Linked DNA regions of Homo sapiens: all the other regions are linked to region 3. Evidence: fine-mapped expression QTL. A gene starts in region 3. Each other region holds a variant in brackets. All regions are shown on one strand. Distances are between the middles of the regions. Region 1 holds the start of OR2T2 (olfactory receptor family 2 subfamily T member 2). Region 2 holds the start of LOC124904577 (a long non-coding RNA gene). Region 3 holds the start of LYPD8 (LY6/PLAUR domain containing 8).

Evidence for each region.
Region 1: its variant is fine-mapped to the expression of LYPD8 in nucleus accumbens (GTEx, PIP above 0.99).
Region 2: its variant is fine-mapped to the expression of LYPD8 in whole blood (TOPMed, PIP above 0.99).

The regions. Positions count from the first base shown.
Region 1 is chr1:248,439,271-248,447,450 of GRCh38, forward strand. OR2T2 (olfactory receptor family 2 subfamily T member 2) reads left to right here and starts at 6,367. Exons shown (of 4, transcript NM_001004136.2): 1 at 6,367-6,399; 2 at 7,319-7,541. It also overlaps the pseudogene OR2T7. The variant A/G (reference allele first, on the strand shown) is at 3,834.
Region 2 is chr1:248,801,333-248,809,512 of GRCh38, forward strand. LOC124904577 (a long non-coding RNA gene) reads right to left here and starts at 6,186. Exons shown (of 2, transcript XR_007067008.1): 1 at 5,717-6,186. RefSeq lists enhancers at 1,313-2,512, 3,921-4,130. The variant A/G (reference allele first, on the strand shown) is at 3,949.
Region 3 is chr1:248,751,615-248,759,794 of GRCh38, forward strand. LYPD8 (LY6/PLAUR domain containing 8) reads right to left here and starts at 4,145. Exons shown (of 7, transcript NM_001085474.2): 1 at 4,091-4,145; 2 at 3,625-3,772.

The DNA.
Region 1 (8,180 bases), 310 kb before region 3:
CAAGAATGAGAACTGAAAAATGCATAAGGATATAATGTGGGTTTCATCAGTAAAAATCTGAATTTTCATCGTTTTCCATCCATCCACTGTGGCATGGTTGTGGTGGAATGTACTGAGGGGCCCTGGTGTGAAGTTCCTGTCTACCAGCCAGTGGGCTGCAGCTTCCATCATTTTTATTGTCCTTTGTTCACATACCAAGTAAGTCAAAACTGCTGAGGTCTTAAAACCATTCTGAAAGTGCACCTGTGGTCACACAACACACGTTCATGTGCCTCAATTCTAGGCTCGAAGACAGATGATGTCTTACATTCTTTCAGGGTCTTTCAGAATATCAAACTTTGGCTTACCCAATGTGCCTCTCGGGAAATATTTACGGAATGAATTGATGTCTACTTTGTCCTGTTGGAAAACAGCATAGAACAAATTATACTGTCACTGTTTAAAGAACAATGTTCCTCCTTGGGGAAGTTTCCTTAAGCCTCATTTTCAACTGTAGAATGGTCTAGTATCTTACACAGTTGTTTGGAAATGTAAAATTTACGAATCAGTTATTAATGTTCTTACTGCTATTTGCAGGTGAATGCATATACAAGTAAAGCCATTTTTCTAATTTGGTACACACCTAAATTTTTTGGCTCAATTCTAATTTGTGGTGTTTAATTCTGGAGGACTTGTTTGGATGAAGGTAATTGGAGCTGTCATATTCCCAGGAATAACTCTAACCAGTGCTGCCTAGTAGAAATCCTAGGGGAGCCACAGAGAATTCTAAATTTTCTAGTAACCACATTAAAAATGTAAAGAATAGGTGAAACTAATTTTAATCTATATTATCCAAATATATCTAAAAGTTACCATAATATAAAGTTTTAAGAAGACGTGTTGCATATATTTTTAACAGGTGTTTGAATTGTTAACTTTGTGCTGATGGCACATCTTGATTTGGAGCAGTCGTGTTTCAGGGGCTCCACAGCTTCATAAGCCTCATGGCTACCACCCTGGATAGTGCAGATCTATATGATGCAGGGAGAAGCTATCCAAATAACTCATAAGTGGTCCTAAATTGTGGTAAAATATTTAACTGATATGGATACATATGCAGAATCTAACTTCAAGTTTGAGAGATCCCTTCTTTTGGGATACACTAGCTCTAATACTTAAACTAGTTTATTTTTTCATAAGTTAAATGGGATTCTAACATTTTAACGAGTTGTATGTTAATAATCGGTAGTTTGCTGCTGCAAGAAGGAAAGCAAACACCACTTGACCCTCAACGTTTTCTCCCATGATTTTTCCTCCTATGAATTCTTGGATGACTTCTCAGAACTCAGCTCTTTTTATTCAACACAGGCTCATTCTGCAATACTCCACCTGATACATGTAAGTTGAGCACTCAAATTTTACAATGTACAAGTGTGTCAAGAATGGTGTAAATTAGGTCAAATAATGCAGTTATTCTTCCATAGGCAAATATATACTCGTGGTGATCTTCAAACTGGATTCTAAGTGTGAGAACTAGAGTCTAGTATAAGGAGAGCAGTGTAGGATGTGGACAATCCTCCTTTCCTCCCCACCACCCTATCCTATTGAATCAGGCTGGTTCCATTCTTATGTCTTATATGCATCCTCACCAATGTAAGGTGGTACTCGAAAGACAGAAATAAATGGTCATGAACAAAAAGATTGTTTGATCATGAACTCTAAATAGTAATCACCAAATCAAGAAAATCCTTAAATGAACAATGATGGTATAATGAGATGTAGCACAATCCTGCTCAGGCAGTTCTCTCAGGGAAATTATGAGCTTCAAGAAATAAGATTTTGACCTTGGTTTCATGACTACATCATAATGTTTTATGTAAATCAGATACCTTTCCAACTTTATCATATCTCTTTCGTGTACCCTACAGAGCTATGGAGCAGAGCAATTATTCCGTGTATGCCGACTTTATCCTTCTGGGTTTGTTCAGCAACGCCCGTTTCCCCTGGCTTCTTTGCCCTCATTCTCCTGGTCTTTGTGACCTCCATAGCCAGCAACGTGGTCAAGATCATTCTCATCCACATAGACTCCCGCCTCCACACCCCCATGTACTTCCTGCTCAGCCAGCTCTCCCTCAGGGACATCCTGTATATTTCCACCATTGTGCCCAAAATGCTGGTCGACCAGGTGATGAGCCAGAGAGCCATTTCCTTTGCTGGATGCACTGCCCAACACTTCCTCTACTTGACCTTAGCAGGGGCTGAGTTCTTCCTCCTAGGACTCATGTCCTGTGATCGCTACGTAGCCATCTGCAACCCTCTGCACTATCCTGACCTCATGAGCCGCAAGATCTGCTGGTTGATTGTGGCGGCAGCCTGGCTGGGAGGGTCTATCGATGGTTTCTTGCTCACCCCCGTCACCATGCAGTTCCCCTTCTGTGCCTCTCGGGAGATCAACCACTTCTTCTGCGAGGTGCCTGCCCTTCTGAAGCTCTCCTGCACGGACACATCAGCCTACGAGACAGCCATGTATGTCTGCTGTATTATGATGCTCCTCATCCCTTTCTCTGTGATCTCGGGCTCTTACACAAGAATTCTCATTACTGTTTATAGGATGAGCGAGGCAGAGGGGAGGCGAAAGGCTGTGGCCACCTGCTCCTCACACATGGTGGTTGTCAGCCTCTTCTATGGGGCTGCCATGTACACATACGTGCTGCCTCATTCTTACCACACCCCTGAGCAGGACAAAGCTGTATCTGCCTTCTACACCATCCTCACTCCCATGCTCAATCCACTCATTTACAGCCTTAGGAACAAGGATGTCACGGGGGCCCTACAGAAGGTTGTTGGGAGGTGTGTGTCCTCAGGAAAGGTAACCACTTTCTAAACAAATTGCATATGCTGCTAGAGACTTGAAATGAAGGATACAAGACTTTATCATTGCCCTTGAGTTTAAATATTCTCTGCCTGGAAACAAGTGACCCACATGCCAGCAACTGTGGGGCATTTATGGGATTTGGAAAGCTGCCTGGGATTTTTAAGGATTTCATTTTTTTGAAAGGTATGAAGGCTCTGAACAATGAACAGTTTGGGCTGGGGTAGGCATAAAGCTGAGGTTTAGTAGTCACCCATGAGCTCTTAACAAGGTGTGTATTCCACTAAAAATCATGGACTAGCCTGTTTCTGGCTCTGCTCAGTCATGGCAAAAACGGTCATCTTCAACTACTTCCCTGACTTCTCTCGACTTTTCCCCTTTAGACAGTCTGTCCATTGACCATTATAAAGAATCAACTCAAATATTATATTTCAAATATAGCAGTCACCATCTTATCCTCAGGCTGTGTTCTAAGTCTTTTGGGGGAAGCCTGAAACCATAGTATAGAACTATAGAACCTGACTGCTGTCAGTCACAACATATTTGCTCATCTTCTACCATAAATGTAATACGTTTTCTTTCTTACCTAAGCACTTATCACACACTGTGGCTGTAGGTTTTGCAGTTTGAGGTGTGACAGCAAAATTACCACAAATGTGTTTTTCCTCCTACACAATTTCAAAGAAGATTCATTCTTACTGTAGATCTTGGCAATCTCAGCATATTTTTCTTGCCAGAACCTCCAGTTAAGAACTTATTAGAATGTGTCTCTGATAATGGTTTGGCTGTTTCCCCACCCAAATATCATCTTGAATTGTAGCTCCTATAATCCCCATGTGTAGTGGGAGGGGCCTGGTGGGAGTTAATTGAATCCTGGGGGTGGGTTTTTCCCATGCTGTTCTCATGATGAATAAGTCTCACGAGATCTGATGGTTTTACAAAGGGTGGTTCCCCTGCACATGAGTCTTGCCTGCTGCCATGT[A/G]AGACATGCCTTTGCTTCTCCTTCACCTTCCACCATTGGCTGTGAGGCCTCCCCAGCCATGTGGAACTGAGCCCACTTAACCTCTTCATAAATTACCCAGTTTGGGGTGTTTTATAGCAGTGTGAAAATGGATTAATAGTCTGTTTTTCAGAGACATGAGCAGAGGGCCAATATCTTTAGAAATATAGAACACTTAAAAATTAAGTCTTATAGGAGCTAGCAAGGTTTTGCCAAATACAGATTCACCCAAAAATGTCAAGTGGCACTTTGGAATGGAGTGAGAGTGGGCAGGCAGAATTATCTGAAATTAAAACAATCTAAACTCCAAACTGTGGGAGTCAGTCTTGGCTTGTAGCAACCAAGTCTATACCTACTGATGATATAAAAAGGATTACTTCCTGAAGAGAGTTAAAGGGAAGGAAAAGAGAAAAAGTGAATAAGAAACATGGAAGATTGAGACACCACAAAATACCTCTTGTAAAAAGTCTAAATTATATAAGATAACTAAGTTCAACACTAGACAAAGTATTGTGACACATGAACATGAGTTAGAAACTAATACCAATCAATACACTGTTCACAGGTCTGTTTTTTCCTTAAGTTGGGCTTGTATTAACAATTTTCCAAACTGATACAGCAGCACTTCTCAAACGCTTTCATGACATAACTATAAAAATTAGTGATATGGCACCTTGAGGAAAACTGATGTGGCTGTTGACAGCAAAATCAACTCCCCTGTGGCTGTAGCCAAATCGGGCACTGAAGACCAATCCAGGGTTGAGAGGATCAATATTGGTTGTAACCCATTTGTGGCTCTGGAGAAAGACACATCACACCAGAGGGAAGAGTGTATCCAATCAATCCAATAGTTAGTTGGAGAACTTTATTTATGGATGACATATAAAATATTCAGGAATTATTGAATAACATTCTAAAGGCTGAAAAAGGGTATGGGTTTTCTGCTTATCTGCAACAGAGGGTATAAGGTATGTGTCCAATGGATTTGTGATGACTAGCAATCATAAGTAATGTTGCCCATTAGCTGACTTAATGCATGAAAAGCATTCAATGATGTTGTTTGGGAAGCAGAACTTTAGTAATAAGACCACCTTCTTTTCCCCATTAGAGAAATAAATGTTAGGAAGTTCAATTTTCCTAATGTTTAAATATCTTAATGTGCTCTGGTGAAAACTTTAGAAAATGCATAACTTGTATTACCCTCACTTTTTTCTCTACCAATTGCGTTATTTCCATCATTTTTCTTATGTCTCCTTTATTCCTACTGAGGTCAATATTCTTCTGTAGTACACGTAAGACAAATAATTCTGAAAAACACTTAACCTAAGTGACAAATGCCACTTTTGTGAAAATAGAAGATAGGAGAAAGTAGAAGGAAAATCTCTTGGGACCCAAACTCACTAAGCCAAAGGGAAAAGTCAAGCTTGGGAACTCTGTCATGCAAAACTATATTCCATATCTGTTCCCGACTGTATGGCTACAGATTCCATACTGTTCCGGAATGGACAGCTACACAGGTAGAAGGCTACATACCTCCCCAAGGGACCTCCCTCACAATCTGCTAGCAAGGAAATTCCTTGCTGGCCCAAAGATCTTTACCCGAAAACCATTCTCTTGAATTGTCATGCTGACAATGTAAATGAATGGCTTATCTTGACAGGCAGTGGACAAAGACAGGCCTGGGAGTCATCCCTCCACTCCCCTGAAACAAATGCATATTTGACTGCTTCCTCTACTGTGTACCTTATCTTATATACAATCCAGATTCACTGAGCAGGAGATGAACGCCCAGTTGAGTGTTCCTCTAAACCCTCTCCTGTCACATCTAAAGTGCGAATTCAGTCAACACTGATTAAAGCCTGCAAAGAAGGAAACTACTTCATTTATTCACACTTCCTTTTTCTTTTTTTTCCTCTAATGCCCACTGTTTCCCTTTTAAATATTGAAGTCTCCCAACCGTCTTTGGAAGAAGCACAAATCTCAGATGCTCCTGTCATATTGTGTTCCTTTTTCCCAGGTGCATCCTCAACCTTGGCACCAGAAACATCTACATTGATTGAGACTTGGCTCCAATGCTTTTTGGTTCACACTTATTTATAACTTTAAAGATTTCTCCCCAAACAAGAGGCCAGTGACTTTTGAGAAAGAGCTTTTTTAGTTTGTCATAGCCTCTATTTCTAAAGAAATTTAAAATCTAATTTTCAATTTAGAGCGAGGCTCTTATCCCCACATCACTGCCTTTAAAATCTCTCTGGAGAGATGCCAAGATTCAGTAAGACATTTTCATGATGAAATACCAAGAAACGATTCCAGTCCTTCACTTGGGAAAACAATGCACCCTCTGCAAGAAAGGACAGGCTGCTTCTAAAGTTCATGGTAAACCCAGTCAACTTGGATTAATTGCTAACCCAGGAATTCTTCCTGGGGGATGTGGGACTCTATTAGTGAAAAGACTTTTTGACCTAGCCTCACCCCTACACAATGTATTTAATAAGAAGTCTGACATTCCACTACTGCTTTAGAAAGACTTGGACCCAGCTTCTCTGAGGTAGGATCCTTAGATCTTCATGAAAAACAGAACATCACCCAGATACTGGGATGTTTTCTTCAGGTATTACTCTGTAACTATTAGAAGGCCACGTTACTACTGTGAGCTTATCTGCTAATAACTGAGGCAGTGGTCTTCTCAAGATTAAGCATAAATAACATATATTCACTATCTGGCAAGCAGACAACTGGAAAAGGGCATTTAGCATGAAACGTGGGAAGCTAAGGGAAATGTAATAGTTTAGAAGAACATGAATAGATTTACTGAAGGAAAATGGCATGTAAGAGCCGACAGTTAGAAGAATGTGCTTGGTATTCACAATGAGAAAGTTTCAGAATTAATTGGTAGCAGGGGTGCATACTATTGGATAAGCATAGATTGCCCTCTGAATATTTTGTTAAAATTTTAATTTACATTTTAAGTTAAATGATTAATTGCTCCGTTCATATGCATTTAGGTGTGGCTGAAGACTTCATGCTTGGAGGGAAATCATGATTTTTTTTTTTCATTTTAACCTCCTTCCTCTTTTATTGAACCCATAAGGCATCCACGTGTGCCTTAAGATCTTTTTTTTTAATAAAACTATTAGAGGTCTCCTAGAAGCCATCTTAGCATGGCATATAAAAGCCTGTTGAGCTGAGTAACTGGAGCCCAGGGGGAGATGTGGACATGTTGGAAGCTCAGGCTGTAGGGGTATAATAATGAGTGCATTGTGTTTATAGTTGCAGGTGTCTGCCCCTTGCTTCAGCTCACCTCACCTCACCACTGCTGTTCCTGTGTAATCCTCCATGCCCTTACTCTCCATTTCCTCTTCCACAGTATTAGTAGGGTGGACTAGATGGGCTCGCCTCGCCTCACCTCGCCTCTGCTGCTCCTGTGTAATCCTCCATTCCCTTACTCTCCATTTCCTCTTCCACAGCGTTAGCAGGGTGGACTGGATGGGCCATATGCCAGATCCTTTGATTTCTATTTGCCACCACACGAACTGACACTGCTGCCCAGAAGCATTCCCCTGCACATCCACATCACAGCCCTCCTGCTGGCAGCTTGGAATTTAGACCTTTTACTCTCAATGCTCCAGGAAACCAGATGTACTTCTTTCTTTCTTGTCCATTGGTGATATCCTTGACAATGTAGTTTAGGTAAGTTGGCATGTAGCATTAAAACCTGTATTCTTCAAACTGAACTAACTTCTGGCATAGTAAGTGTTCAGTAAATGTTCACCTACATGCCATTATAGTGCTGATTTTTTTTTTTTTTTTAAAGCCAAGAAAACTTCTATCTTATGCCTAATTTTCCACACTGAAAATTTCCAAATTGTCAGTTGGGATGGGAGGGAAAGTAGACTACTTTTCCATGAATGAAAACAGTTACCATTTAAATAAATAGGCAGATAAAGGGGGGTGGTAACTAAGGCAGTATGTAATTAGAACTGGAGATAAGGTAAGGGAAAAGAGAAATTCACATCATTGGATACTACGTTGCTGTGGAGAGAAGGGGATAAAATCTGATTAATGTAGGAAGCAAGGTCCAAATGCGTTCATTCATAAAAGCAGACGGAGTACAGGAGTAGCTTGTGTAGGTAGAAGAAGAAAAGGAGTTCCTGGCCAAAGCCCACTGTGGCTATGAACACTTATGAGTAGCAATTAATATTAATCTTGCTTTCAAGACTAAAACTGCCAGGTGGATCTTTCATAAGTACCTTATTTCAGCATGTAACTTTCTGACTGAAACAACTCCCATTTGCACCTTATTTCTCGACGCTGAGTTCTGGTCTCCCT
Region 2 (8,180 bases), 50 kb after region 3:
CCAGATTCTCTAGTTACCACTGTTCTACTTTCTGCTTTTGTAAGTTTGACTATTCTAGATACCTTATGTAAGTGTAATCATACAGTATTTGTTCTTTTGCGACTGGCTTGTTTCACTTAGCAAAATGTCCTCAAGGATAGTCTATGTTGTAGCATATGTCAGAATTTCCTTCCTTTTTAACGTTAAATAATATTCAATTGTATATAACGTATTTTGTTTGTCCATTTATCTGTCAATTGACATTTGGGTTGCTTTTACCTCTTAACTATTGTGAATAATACTGCTTCAATATGGGTGTGCAAATATTTCAAGAGTCTGTTCTCACATTGCTATAAAGAAATACCTGAGACTGGGTCATTTATAAAGAAAAGAGTTTTAATTGGCTCGTAGTTCTGCAGGCTATACAGGAAGCATAGTGGTTTCTGCTTCTGCGGAGGCCTCAGGAAGCATCCAATCATGGCAGAAGGCAATGGGGGAGCAAGGCCAGGTGACTTGCTTTGGCCAGTGAAAGGTGAGTGAAGGGACAAGTCTTGGGACCCCTGTGCACTGTTTGCCACATCCCTTCCACCTGCCGGAAAGATGAGGTTCTCAAACTCCAGGGTACACTAGAATCACTCTAGGGGTTTGTTGAAAGCTGCTGGGGTCCACTCCCAGCATTTCTAATGCAGTATTGCTGTGGGCAGAGGAGTGGAGGTAGGGGGCTGAGAATTTGCATGTCTAACAAGTTTCTGGTGATGTTTATATTGTTGATCTAGAGAACACATTTTAGGAACTAGAGTCATAGAAGGATCCTCCCTGGGCCAGGGTCTCTGAGTGATACCTTCCTATTGAACCATGTTTAAGATGAAGGTTGGGTGGGGAATAAACATTTTTCTGTTCCCATTTCACTGTGGGATTTTGATGTTTATAGGTGAAAGAACATATCCCACACAGAAGCATAAATCTCTCACAACCAGCAGGACCTCGAGAAAGAAACACCATTTTGATTAGAGGGGCTTTAGTTTTCCCTGGGCTCCAGGTACACAAATCCACACGGAATTAATGGTGCAGAGCTGTAGAGAGGCTCTCAGCCATGTCCTAAGGCACATTCTCCTCAGTCCTCTCCCACCTGGTACATAGGATACCTACTTCCAGGGGGAAATCCAAGATTTCCTGGGAAGACAACTCCTTTCCCCTGTGCCTTCCACGGGTCCTGCCTATAGCTTGAGTTCACTCACAGAATCTGGTTTCCTATTGTTGGATATCAAACACTGTTGGAGCCAACAGAGGGTGGGACCTGTCTGAAACAAGACTCATCAGTGATCTTCCTGATCAGAGCCATAAACCTCTGGCCGGCAGTCAGCTGAAGGATTCAGGCAGCACTGGGAACAGCCACTTCACCTAGGAACTTGGAGATAGGTCAAGATAAGGAGGGCTGTAAATCTAACTCGGGCTCAGCTAGAGTCCTGGCACGTATGAGTATCATTTGTGCTACCAGCCCGGTCACCTACGAGGCATTCCTCTTCTTGTCTCTGATGTCCCGGTCACCTACGAGGCTTTCCTCTTCTCATCTCTGATGTCCCGGTCACCTACGAGGCTTTCCTCTTCTCATCTCTGATGTCCCGGTCACCTACGATGCTTTCCTCTTCTTGTCTCTGATGTCCCGGTCACCTACGAGGCTCTCCTCTTCTCATCTCTGATGTCCCGGTCACCTACGAGGCCTTCCTCTTCTTGTCTCTGATGTCCCGGTCACCTACGAGGCTCTCCTCTTCTCATCTCTGATGTCCCGGTCACCTACGAGGCCTTCCTCTTCTTGTCTCTGATGTCCCGGTCACCTACGAGGCTCTCCTCTTCTCATCTCTGATGTCCCGGTCACCTACGAGGCTTTCCTCTTCTCATCTCTGATGTCCCGGTCACCTACGAGGCTTTCCTCTTCTCATCTCTGATGTCCCGGTCACCTACGAGGCTTTCCTCTTCTTATCTCTGATGTCCCGGTCACCTACGATGCTTTCCTCTTCTTGTCTCTGATGTCCCAGTCACCTACGAGGCTTTCCTCTTCTCATCTCTGATGTCCCGGTCACCTACGAGGCCTTCCTCTTCTTATCTCTGATGTCCCGGTCACCTACGAGGCTTTCCTCTTCTTGTCTCTGATGTCCCGGTCACCTACGAGGCTTTCCTCTTCTCATCTCTGATGTCCCAGTCACCTACGAGGCCTTCCTCTTCTCGTCTCTGATGTCCCGGTCACCTACGAGGCTTTCCTCTTCTCATCTCTGATGTCCTGGTCACCTACGAGGCTTTCCTCTTCTCGTCTCTGATGTCCTGGTCACCTACGAGGCCTTCCTCTTCTCGTCTCTGATGTCCCGGTCACCTACGAGGCTTTCCTCTTCTTGTCTCTGATGTCCTGGTCACCTACGAGGCCTTCCTCTTCTTGTCTCTGATGTCCCGGTCACCTACAAGGCCTTCCTCTTCTTATCTCTGATGTCCCAGTCACCTACGAGGTTTTCCTCTTCTCATCTCTGATGTCCCAGTCACCTATGAGGCTTTCCTCTTCTCGTCTCTGATGTCCCTCCCTCCAGCGTGTATTTTCACGTCTCTCCTCGTCTCTGCTGCTTCACTTTTGTCACTTTCTCCAAGTCTTTTGGGTTTGTCTAGCTGCAGATGTTTTCTCTCATCCTCATCATTTATGCTTCCAGATCAGTTTTCCTGTCATTCTTATTCAGCTTTTATCTCTGTCACATTCTCTCTGAAAGTGTCGTTAAATATATATACATATGTATGTATATACATTTTTTTTTTTGAGACGGAGTCTCACTCTGTCACCCAGGCTGGAGTGCAGTGGCGCGATCTCAGCTCACTGCAAGCTCCGCCTCCCAGGTTCACGCCATTCTCCTCCCTCAGCCTCCTGAGTAGCTGGGGCTACAGGTGGACGCCACCAAGCCCGGCTAATTTCTTGTATTTTAGTGGAGAAGGGGTTTCGCCATGTTGCCCAGGCTGGTTGCCAACTCCTGAGCTCAGGTAATCCGCCCGCCTCAGCCTCCCAAAGTGCTGGGATTACAGGCGTGAGCCACCGTGCCCGGCCCTAAATATATTTTTAACCAACCCAGAAAAAATTAAAAAGTATATCCCAGGTGGCAGGTGAACTAAATACCTGGTTCACTTTATTTAACCTCGGGTTTGTTTTTGTTAGTGTTATGAAGACGTAGCTCCCCTCCTCCTAAGGCCTCATGCCCTTTTCTGTTAACAGTCCCTTCCAATGGGGCAGCCATGGTCACTATTGCCAGATGCAACTGTTTGAGGGAATGGAGAGGATTGTAATCTGAGGCTTCTGAAATTGTAAAGTGAAAGAGGAGATCTGGTAAAAGGGGCGAAGATCAGCTGAAGGAAGGTCAGATGTGAGTACAGCAGCAACGGTTACATTCCCACCCTGGGCTGCAGAGGCAGGTGGGCTGCAGAGGCAGGTGGGCTCCTGGCCTCTCTCTCCAAGTGGAGTGGGAGGCTGAAACCATAGCAACACTGAGGTTAGCACACAAGGCAGGTGACATTAAGCAACATCCTCTCCTTCTTCCCTAAACCACAGCAGCCCCTGCGAACCTGTACAGCTCCATGAGCCTCCTCCAGCCTTCACTGCTGCCCCAGGCCCCCAGGCCCTTAAGAATTCCTGCTGGAAAAAAGCAGGCCGTGGCACAACTGAGATTTCCTTGTGTCAGTGTGAAGATGATCCAGCTCTTCTGCATGTTATTGCAGAAATCATAGAGACGAAACAGGATGGGGTGGCCTGGAAGGAGCATGGAAGATGAAGCCGCAGCTGAGGAAGAAGGCAGCTCTGCTGCTCCACTCTACCCTAGACCAAGAAGGTTCCTCTTTTCTAAATGGGGAAGAAACTCATTTTGACACTCCCTTCCTCCTATGTTTGAATAAATCAAGAAGCGTATCTGCACTGTGCAGTGAAAGCCACCTGCCTGCCTGGAG[A/G]AAGAGAAACTACTGCCCAGCACTCTGAGCTCTTCGACCTCTGGACGATGATCATCTCACACCCAAGCAGAAATATCCAGCAGCCCTCTGCTCCCTCCGGGCTGGGTCCTAACCAACTCTGGACTTGCTCAGGTTTCTCATGCTCCAACCCCTAACCCTGTCTGCAAACACATGCACCATTTCACATCATCCATCAGAACTCTTCGCATGGCCCAGCCTCCACTGCCAGCTGTATAATTTTAGTGCTTTAGATAACCTTAGAGGTTATCTACTGAGTCTGTCCACACTTCCGGCAGATTGGAACACTGAGGCCCAGAGGAGCTGAGTGAATTGTCCCTGTGCACATAACCCCTTGTGGCAGGGGCAGGCCAAGGGCAACCCTCTCTGAATAGTGTGGTCAGTGTTTTTAACACCGAAGCTCTCAAAAGAACTAATGTTTACTGAGCACCTAGAATGAGGGTGACCATATGTCCTAGATCACCCAAGTCAGTCCCAGGCCACACCTGCCCCCTTTCACACTCAGCTGTCCCAATTTAGACTATGCATCACGTATGGTCCCTGTACATATGTCTATTGTGTTATGTGTTGAGTGAGATGGAGTCAAGGATGATACTGACCCCTTCTTCTGAGGACTTAGGACCAACAAGAGACATGTCTACAACAACCGGCCCATTCTTCAGTAAGTCAAAAGAGCCATGGGGAACTTGAGAGTGATAAGGATTAATTCAGACTGGGCTAGAGAGGTGCCTGTGGTTGAATCCCAGCTCATGTGGACTTTTGACCACATGATCTGGTCCTCAAACCACAGGCAGCAGTTTGACAGTTTGAGAAGGGAGGAAACTTGTGCCAAGGGTAGCACAAGCAGAAGTAAGTCAGTAGACAGCTGTTTGGTGAAAATTTCCACATTCCAGGTCCTGAGAACACCAAGATGGGTGAGACACAGGCCCTGGGAGCTCAAGACAGATTTGGGAAGAGTGAGGATTGGGAGCCAGGCACCACTTCTCCAGTCTGAGACCAAGGGGCTGGTTCAGAGCTTCGGAGAGCAATGCCCAGCTGTAACCTCCCAGATTTTTCCTTGACTGCAGCCCTCATTAGTTATTTATTTACTTATTTTTAGAAATAGGTTGTCCCTCTGTCACCCATTCTGAAATAGTGGTGTGATCATAGCTCACTGCAGCCTCAAACTCCTGGGCTCAGGAGATCCTCCCACTAGCCTCAGGAGTAGCTAGGACTACAGGTGCATGCCATCACGCATTGCTAATTTTTTTACTTTTTGTAGAGTCGGGTTCTCACTATGATGCTGAGGCTGGCCTCAAACTTGGTCCTCAAGTGAGCCTCCCACCTTGGCCTTCCAAAGCATTGGGATTACAGCTGTGAGCCATTGCTCCTGGCCTGGTTATGTATTTTTCACTGCCCTGCACCACCTGTGCACACCTGCATTCCTTACCTGGAAGACCCACCCATGGCATTACAGTTTATAGTGTTCCTAACAAGGCCTACCACAGTGTTTGTACACTGAAAGATCCTGGTGAACATTTCTTAGTAAACTACACATATCCATTTGCCAGCCAGTGTATGGTCTCCTGGTTCCCTTATCCCAGGGCATGAGCAATGTGTTGCAGCCTGGGGCTCAGGAATGGTGAGCAGGCGTGGGTGGAGAAATTTATAAAGAGGCTGTGGAAAGGGAGAGGGAAAAGACACTAGGGAGGCCAAGGAAGGAGGTGAGCTCTGAGGAGAACAGGGTACATCTACATATCGAACATCTTACCTCCTGAGACCAGCTGCGCTGCAGACTTGAGCCAGCTCTCACACGCAATAGGTGATTCCGAGGACACACGGGAATGCAAGAGGCCCATGACAAGTACAAATAGGGTTCCATTCTGATGTATACACACCCCCACCCTTCTATGTGCAGTTTTTCAGGCCCTTCTGCAAAGTGCCCATGAGGCTGACCACGCAGGCTTGGAGGGTCAACACGCAGTGCGCGCAGGGAAATGCAGAGCCCAGGCTCTGCGCACTTTCTGGTAGCTGCTGCCCCCTGCTGACACAGCAAGACCTTGACAGCCCAAGAAGGTCATCTCCGCTCTTCCTGCCAGGCAGAGTAGGAGCATCTACAGATGGGTTGATTCCACACCCCACAAATACGTACAATTACAATATGTCAATTTTAAAAGATGTCTAAAGGCTGGAAGCATAACCAGGCATGGTGGCTCATGCCTGTAATCCCAGCAATTTGGGAGGCCGAGGTAGGGGGATCGTTTGAGCCCAGGAGTTTAAGACCACCCTGGGCAACACAGGGAAACCCCGCCTCCAAAATAATCCAAAAATTAGCTGGGCATGGTGGGACACACCTGTAGTCCCAGCTACTTGGTAGGCTGAGGTGGGAGGATCTCTTGAGCCGAGAAGGTCGAGGTTGCAGTGAGCCAAGATCACATCACTGCACTCCAGCCTGGGCTAGAACGAGTGTCACAAAAACAAACAAAAAAAAAGGCAAAGAGCAGTGGTTCAAGCCTGTAATCCCAGCACTTTAGGTCAAGGAGGGAGGACTGCTTAAGTCCAAGAGTTCAAAACCATTTTGGGCAACACTGCAATACATCTCTACAGAGAAAAAAAAAATTAAGTTAAAAATTAGCGGGGTATGGTGGTGTGCATCTGTGGTCGTAGCTACTAGGGAAGCTGAGACAGAAAGATTGCTCGAGCCCAGGAGTCCCACGCCGCAGTGAGTTATGATTGCACCACTGCACTCCAGTCTGAGCAACAGCGCAAAACCCTGTCTCATAATAAAATAAATATTAAAAATTAAATTTTTAAAAAGGCAGTGGGGTTGTCATGCTTGTCAAAAATCATATCCAGATGAGGAGGGAAACACAACCCTTTCATAGAGTCCACTTGCCTAGCGCAAGATGGGATGAAGCCTCCGTGAGTTAAGCACTCCGAGGCTGTGAAGAGGTGCTAACAGGAATCGCTGCACCTCAGATCCACTGATGTAGCAGCATGCCACACATGCCTCTATGCTCCCATTTTATAGGCGATAAAATTGAAGCGTCATGAAATTTGAGAATTCCCATAGAGATGTGATCCTGGGATTGTGCATCACCAGGTCCTGACCTCCAAACTGCTGTACTGATAAACCCACCTGATACAGCTGTGGGCTAAGAGAAGGGGCAAGAAGCAAAAGCACATTTCCTGAGCATCTGTTGGTGAGAGCCTGTGTCAGGTGTTGGGTAGACTGAGGCCCCAGCCCCACACTTGAGGAAGATGAAGATCAGAACAATTCATTACCAACAGGCCAATGTAACATGTAACATGACACAGTACAGGAATGGGGGATGGGGCCCTATGTCCCCCACACCTTGACCATCTCTTCCTCACCTTAAACAAAATTTCTCGACCCTCTTTGCTGGGAGAAGGAGCTAAGAAACAGTATTCCCACTTCTCATCTCTTCTTCCCAGCAAAACTTCCTCGGAGATGACTACCTCCACTTCCTCACCTCCTGTTCCTGTGAGCCCAGTGGTTCAAGCGTTTGGACTCTAGAGTCCAAGTGCCTAGTGGGAGCCGCCTCCGTTACCTTCAGCAAGGCTGAGTACCCCCCATTGTGCCTTATTTTCTTACCGTGGAAAGGAAATCATAGTGTTTATCTGTCCTATAACATTGTTGTAGAGATTAATTAGGGGCGTTCCTGGTACGTGAAATGCACTGGATGAGTACAAGTTACTACAACGAGGGTGGGAGGGAGGGAGCTCTTCGGCTTCTGTCTTCTTCTCCTTAGAAGTACCATTGGCTCTAACCTTCCTGGTCTCTCTTCCCGCCTGCCGCATCTTCTAGGTGATTTTGCAAGGAGAAACGCACGTGCATGGCATAGCCCTTCTTTTCTAGGGCTCTTCTGTACCAGGAGCCTCACAGGTCCTGCCTGCCAGTGACTGGGTAGGGAAGTCCAGCACTGTGTGTCATCTCAGAAAGCCCTTCATTAGGACTATAATACTGTATTATAGACTGAAAATTTGCTGAGAGTAGATTTTAGGCGGTTTCACAACAAAAAAGGGGGGAGGTAACTGCAAAATGATAGGCCAATTTGATACCTATTTCATTATGTGCATCAAAATACCATGTTGTTCACCTCCTATACATACAATTTAAAAAATTTAAAAAGCCCACTCACCCAAAAACATATGCTATGCATTTTCATAGCAGCTTTTCTAGTAATAAAATATTATGACACCCATCTGCCAAG
Region 3 (8,180 bases):
TACAGGTATTAATTTATGTAATTCATCTACTGTAGCAGGCAGGTATTATTATTAGCATCCTAAGAAAAATCAAGCCTTAGCAGGATTGGGTAATGCACTCAAAGTCAAGGTCTTACTTCTGGGAGGTATCAGAACTGGAGTTTCGTCTGTGTCCCCAACCGCCAGCCCACACTCCCTTCCACTATTCCCACAGTCCTCAGCCTGGACACACTCAACCTGCAGCACTAAATCAGAGTCCCCCATGCACTTCCAAATAGCGTGTCACCAATGTCTCTGCACCTTGCATTCCCTGCCTGCAGATTCTCTGAGTTAGGCCTTTGAGGATTGCTAAGGTTTGGTTATATTCATTAGAATTCGAAATTAGAACTTCCAGAATTCCAACTTGCTTGTGTATCAAAGCAGGAGAGAGCAGGTGTGTGGCTCTGGCCTGAGCCCTTCTTAATCATTATCTCATTTACCCTATACACGGTCGCTGTGAGGCACACATAGTTATTTATGATTCTTCGAGGGTAGATAAAATGAAACATTCTGTTTCTCAGTAGCACTGGCTACATTCCCAATGCTCAGGAGCCACATGTGGCTGTTGGCTGCTGTATTGGCCAACGCAGGCACAGAACACTTCCATCATTGCGGAGAGTCCCAGTGGACAGTACTGTACGGCAGAGGCTATTAGCCCCACTCTACAGGTGAGAAACCTGCAGCACAGAGGGACGACGAAGTAACCCAAGCTCGCTCGGCTCCTAAGGCCAAAGCCAGTGCTCTATTCCAGGTCCTTCCAGCTCCAAAGCCTAGTTGCACCACAATAGCTGCTACTTACTGAAACACAATCGCCTTCATCTGGAAGCCCCTACTCCCACCTCACCACACACATGCACATCACCCCCCACACACACCAAACANCCCACACAACACACACACACCACACCACACAAACACAAACACACCACATCATGAACACACACATCACACACACACCACACACCCCACACACCCCACACACATCACACACACACACCACACACCCCACACAACACACAACACACACCACACACACCACACCACACACACACCACACCCCACAACACACACACACCACACTCCCCACTGAACACACACACATCACACACACCACACACCCCACACACACCACACACCCCACACAACACACACCACACACACACCACACCCCACAACACACACACATCACATCACACACACCACACCCCACACACACACACCACACCACACACACACCACACACCCCACACAACACATACACACATCACACACACCCCACACACCAACACACCACATCACACACACACCACATCACACACACACCAAACACCCCACACAACACACACACAACACAACACACACACAAACACACCACATCATACACACACCACACACCCCACACACCACACACACATCACACACACACCCCACACACCCCACACACCCCACACCACACTACACACACACCACACACCACACACAACACACACAACACAACACACACACCCCACACACAAACACCCCACACACCACACACACCACATCACACACACACACCACATCACACCCCACACAACACACACACCACACCACACACACACACCACACACCCCACACAACACACACCGCATCACACACACACCACACAACACACACACACCACACACACCACACACCCCACACAACACACAACACATCACACACACCACACACACCACACAACACACACATCACATACACACCACACACCACACACAACACATACACATCACACACACACCACACACCACACACAACACACACAACACAACACACACAACACACACCCCACACAACACACCACATCACACACACATCACACAACACACAACACAACACACACATCACACACCCCACACAACACACCACATCACACAAAACACATCACACACACAACACACACCCCACACAACACACACAACACAACACACACACCACACACCCCACACAACACACACAACACACCACACATATACATCACACACCACACACCCCACGCAACACACACACCACATCACACACACACCACACACCCCACACACACACGCATCACACCACACACACCACAGCCCCCACACAACACATACACACCACATCACACACACACCACACATCACATGTCATACACAGCACATACACCACACACACCACATAACATCACATGTCACACACACATCACATGACACATACACCACACACCCCATGCATCACACACACACCACACATCACATGTCATACATACTACATACACACAACACACACAACACATAACATCACATGTCACACACATCACATGACACACACCACACACTCCACACATCACATACACACTGCACATACACTACATCACACACCACACACCACACATCACATGTCACAAACACCACACAGCACACCCCACACCACACACATACACCACATACACAAATACCACACCACACACCACACATACACCACACCACACACACTTCACACACACCACACATCACATGTCACACACATTAGGTACACACCGAACACACACAACACACATTAAATGCCACATACAACACACCACACACATTAAACACACACCCCACACATAAGTCACACACATCACACACACAACACACCATGCGCTAAATACATCACACATACTACACACATGCAAATCACATCACAGACACCACATACGCACCACACCACATACCACACACACGACACATCACATGCCACACATCACCTGTCACACACATCAAACACACACACAATACACCACACACCTCACACACGTCAAACAAACCCCACACACACCATATCACACACACATCACACACACCACACATGCACCATATGCCTCCACACACAGAGACACATACACATCACACACCCTCACACACACACACCCCACATGCCATTTATACCACATGCCACAAACATTACATGCACACAAACCATATACACAATACACAAACCACACACAAACACCACACACCCTACCCTGATACCCTGGTTGACTTATTAGAGATTGGTAAAAAGGAAGGGAAACCAGTCGGTCTGGGAGAAGAGGCCCATACATGATGCCAATGACCCCACCATTTAGAGATCCAAGGAGGAAAATAAAGCACATCTGGTCTGGAGCTTGTAGCAGACGTGCGCCAGCCCCTCACCCCTCCAGGCCCGGTGCACCCCTACATGCCCGGGTGCACCCCTCCAGGCCTGGAACCCCAGCTGCTTGCTTTTCTCCTCAGTGGGAAAAGAGTTTCAGGGCCATGGCCTTCTGGGAAAGGGCCTCTCAGGTCTTACAGTGTGATGGAGGAGGGGAAAGGAGAGGATGAGATGAGATGAGAAGGAGACCCCAGCAGCCCATCAAGTGCACAGATCACCTCAGCCTATGGTGAAGACCTGAAACTAGCCTCATTTTCAGGGAGAATTGATGGAGGCCCAGAGAGGTCAGGACTTGACCCAGGGNCACCTAGCAGAGAAACAGAGCCTGGGAGTGACCCCATAGCAGGACCCAGGGCCGTGCTCAACACCTCTGTGGGTAAGAGGGACCAGTGAAGCTGGGGCTCAAGGCAGGGCCCCCACCTGGGACATGAGAAGAAGTGGCATCTTAGGCCGTTTCACTAGGTACTTCCCACTGGCAAAGTTTTATTGCGGAATCTTTTCGACAGCCTGGCAGGGTCCTGCTATAATTGCTGTCATCTTCCACAGAGAAAGCTGGAGCCTAGAGAGGCTGTGAGGACACAAAACCACACAGAATGAAGAATGTCACACACAGAATGATGCACAGAACACGCACACACTACACACAAACCACACACACAGTAGCAGATGGCAAAACAACAAGAAAACTACATCCCCAGCCCACATCCTCCCTGAACTCCAGACTTCCCTCTCCTGAGCATACGACTGCCTAGGGCAATGCCAAAGGAGCAAGAGCCGCAAGAATGTCCTGGACTTGGCCGGGGAAGGACCTGAGCTGGTCCTGAATGCCCTTCCTGCGGTTTCAGCTTCTCCCAGGGCTCAGGCCCCGGCCTCGCAGTCCTCTCACCTTCTGGATCTGGCCTGGTGACTGTCCTACAGAAGGTGGTTCCCAGTAGAGGCTTAGGGCTGGTATGGGAGAGGCCTTATATAGCAGGTGGCTGTAAAATCAAAAAGCACAGCTGTCTTCTGGGGTGGGACCTCTGGGTCAGACAGGCTAAGGCTTCTGGCTCTCAGACTGTGCCCTGCCCAATAGAGCTACAGGCTGCCCAACCCTTTGGCATCTGTGCAGCTCGTGCCCTCTCTGAGACCTCTAGGAATTGGGAACAACTTTGGTCAAGGCCTGCCTTTGGCAAAATGTAAACAGGAGTAAGGTATCTTCCAGCATTGTCTGTGGCCTTCTAAGTCAATTCCATGACCTGCTAATGACAAGCACCTAACAACCTGCTAACAGTCACCATGATTAGCCCATTTATAGATGAGAAAACCAAAGCACAGAAAGAGAGCCATAAGAGATATGCTCATGGGCACACAGCCGGGGCACAGTCAGAACTCAGAGCTCCGAATCAGACTATGTGGGGTCTGTGCAACTCAGGAAAGGGCCTCAGTTTCCCACAGGCAAGTGTCTTAACCTTGTTAGATTTGAGGGTCCTCCAACCAAGATGAGTGTAAACTCACTGTGCAGCCTCATAGTGTGGTAGAGGGACCATGACGTGAAGCCCCTGCCTGCAGTGTGCTCTGCACACTGGGTGAGAGCCCACAGCAGCCATCGAGAGAGTCTTTCTGGCCAAGTGATCTGAGCAGCTACTGGTAACAGCCCAGGTCAGGTCAACTGAGGCCTCTCTGTATTAGTCAGGTTCTCTGTCCTCTAGAGAAGGTGAGTTTATATATGTATGAAGGGGAGTTCATTAAGGAGTATTGACTCACATGATCACAGGGTGAAGTCCCACAATAGGCTGTCTGTGACCTGAAGACCAAGGAAGCCAGTCTGAGTCCCAAAACCTCAAAAGTGCAGCCTTCAGTCTGTGGCTGATGGCCTGAGAGCCCCTGGCAAACCACTGGTGTAGGCCCAAGAGTCCCAAAGCCGAAGAACTTGGAGTCCGATGTTTGAGGGAAGGAAGCATCCAGCATGGGAGAAAGATGGAGACTGGGAGACTCAGCCAGTCTGGTCCTTCCTCGTTCTGCTGCCTGCTTTTATCCTAGCTGTGTTGGCAGTTGATTAGATGATGTCCACCCAGATGTAGGCTGGGAGGCTAGGCCAGTCTAGCCTTTTGACATTTTTCTGCCTGCTTTATATTCTAGCAGAGCTGGCAGCTGATCAGATGGTGCCCACCCAGACTGAGGGTGGCTCTGCCTCTGCCAGTCCACGGACTCGAGTGTTAATCTCCTTTGGCAACACCCTCACAGACACATCCAGGAACAATACTTTGCAATACTTTTCAATCCAATCATGTTGACACTCAATATTAACCCTCACACTCTCCCAGTCTCCTCACACTGTGCCATGGGTGCTCCTGGTTTTGAGTGTGGACTTGAGTTATCTTCCCTCCTCATCTTTCCACTGTGCTGACACTTTATACACACACGGTGGGGAGTGGGAGGAGCCCACTCAGCCGAGGATGCAGAGGTTGAGGGGCACACATCATACCAGTATCCCCCAGCCTGCATTTAAACCTTGCAGTTCCCTGCTCTTGAAAATACCCCTTGGGGATGGCTACGCTACCTGTGTCTCAGCTCTCTCTTCCTTCCCCAAACTCATGCATTCATTCAACAAACATTTTTTGAGCACCCTCCCTGTCTTAGGCCTACTGTAGGAAACCGGGAGGTATTTGTGAGCAAAAAGACAAAGACCTTTGCCCTCCTGGAGTGTAGTCTAGAGAGGACTACAGACAACATAAATTAAAGTGGTAAATAAGCAAATCACAGGGAAAGTCAGAATGTGGTGACTGCTCTGGCAAAAAGACAAAGAGTAGGATAAGTCATCAACCATGCTAGGGGGTGAGCAGGTGCAGGCTTCCACTTTCAATGAGGAGGTTGTAGTAGGTCTCATGGAGAAGACAAAATCTGAGTTATTTTTATAAGCAGAGACTCTGGCCATCTCTTATTCTCTCCTCTCCTCACCATCTGCCTTCAGGCTGCTTATCACAGCATTTTCCTAAAAAAAAAAAAAAGCAGCTTCCTCCCTAACAGAACCATATTGTTTCCCAGCACACATTAGTCAGTCACCTGGCAGGGCACAACAAGAGAAGTGGCACAGTAATATCCAATGGGGTGTGTGTGGGCTTGCGGGTTTCAGGAATGTGGCCTCCCTGAGCCACCGATGGAGGATCCAAAGAGCTCATGAACACTGCCTCTGAGATAACAGCTCTGGTGTCAGGCTGAGTACTGGCATGAGAAAATCGGGCTGATCAATGTTAATTCCTCTCAGAAGGCACCAGATACTCAGGCAAATGGACCCAAAGCGACCACAAAGATCTGAGTCTGAATCCAGACTTTGTCCCTCACATCACATAAGTTACTTATTAACCGCACTTGTTGGGCCAGAGCTCTTTGTCTTTAAAATGGAATCATCAGGCCCTGAAGAAATGCCTCCTGATGATTTATTTACTCCTGGAATCATCACCCCATTCCTCTGTGTTTTTCCAAGGCCATCTATCTATCAATAATGTCCTGAGGACGTCTAACCATGTGGGAATTATTATTAATAGCACGTATGATTTTAACTGAGCCATTTATCAGTAAGGACACTGAAGACAATGGAAGCCCCCTGAACTAGGCTGCGCAGTCTATACGGCTGCTCACAGCAGTCCTGGGTTCATCCTTTTGAAGCCCCGGCAGTGCGCCAAGGGTACCCCCAGCTGCCTTGACAGATAAGGAAACAGGCCCAGGGAGGCCTTCCCTATAGGCCTTCAGACGCCTGGGCCAGCAATCTTTCCATTTCAACATGGCTCAGGTGGGACGCAGCCTCCACCCGCAGGATTGGAGACATCGACTTGACTCCACTCCTCCCTCTCCCAGAGGTTCACCTCTCTGTCATTAATGTGGGGTCCAAGGACCTGAATCAGTCACAGGGAATTATGAAAAAGCACCTCTCTAAAGCCGACTCCTCCTGACTAGCAAAGAAGTCCAGAGACCCAGGAGAAGCTAAGTCGCAACAAGCAGCCCAACTTTTAAACTAAGAAGCCCTGGGCACACCGTAGGCACCCTAGTTCCATCATCTTCTTAGAAGGGGACAAGGTTGGCTGTCCCTACAGCCTGCTGAGCTGAGGCAAACCTGGAGCTCAGCTGAGTCCCAGTGAGTCATCCGGTGGTAAATCTGGAACCACTTTAGGAAACGGCCTTTTCCCAAAGCTTCCCTTGATGACCAGCAAAGCTTGGAGGTGAGTTTCCAGGGGAGCCTACCCCATTTTGGAATAAGCATGTGGAGGTGTGTAGGGTCAGGTCAGGGAAGCTGGGGCAGGAATTATATCCAACAGGAGTCTAAGCCAAAGACTCAGCAAAAGGATCAAGAGCATCCACCCCTGACCCGCCTTCTCTCTGTGTTTGCTTCTGGGAGCCTTTCATTGACTAGCTCATTCCTCCCGCTTGGAGATGTGAGAATAGGCTAAAAATAATGAATTATTGCCCCCAACATTCCTGCCCCCCAGTCACCTTGCAGAGGAAATGAGCATATCCTGGAAGATAAACTTCCCCAATAGTCCATGGCCTTATGTAAGATGATGATCCCCCCGAGTCTTGGGTTTCCCATCTTTCAAGTGGCAAAAACAGCACTACGGCCTGAGTAGCTATTCTGAGGGTCAAAGGAGGTCGCACAAGCCGACAATGATGATGAAACTATCACTTCATAAAGGGCTCTAAAAACAATGGCTACTACTGCTATCATTGTTCTCTGAGCTCATATCGGCAACTGCACAGCCCAGAGGGACATTCGCATCTGCACAGGGCAATGGTCTGAGGTGAGGTCCAGCCTCAGAACACACTTCTACCACAATTAGATACTACTTCATGCCCACTAACACAAATAAAATCAAAAAGAAAGAAAGAAAAAGAGACAGAGAAAGAAAGAAAGAAAGAAAGAGAAGGAAGCAAGGAAAATTGCGAGCATTAGGAAGGATATGGAGAAATTGGAACCTTCATACACTACTGGTAGGAATGTAAAA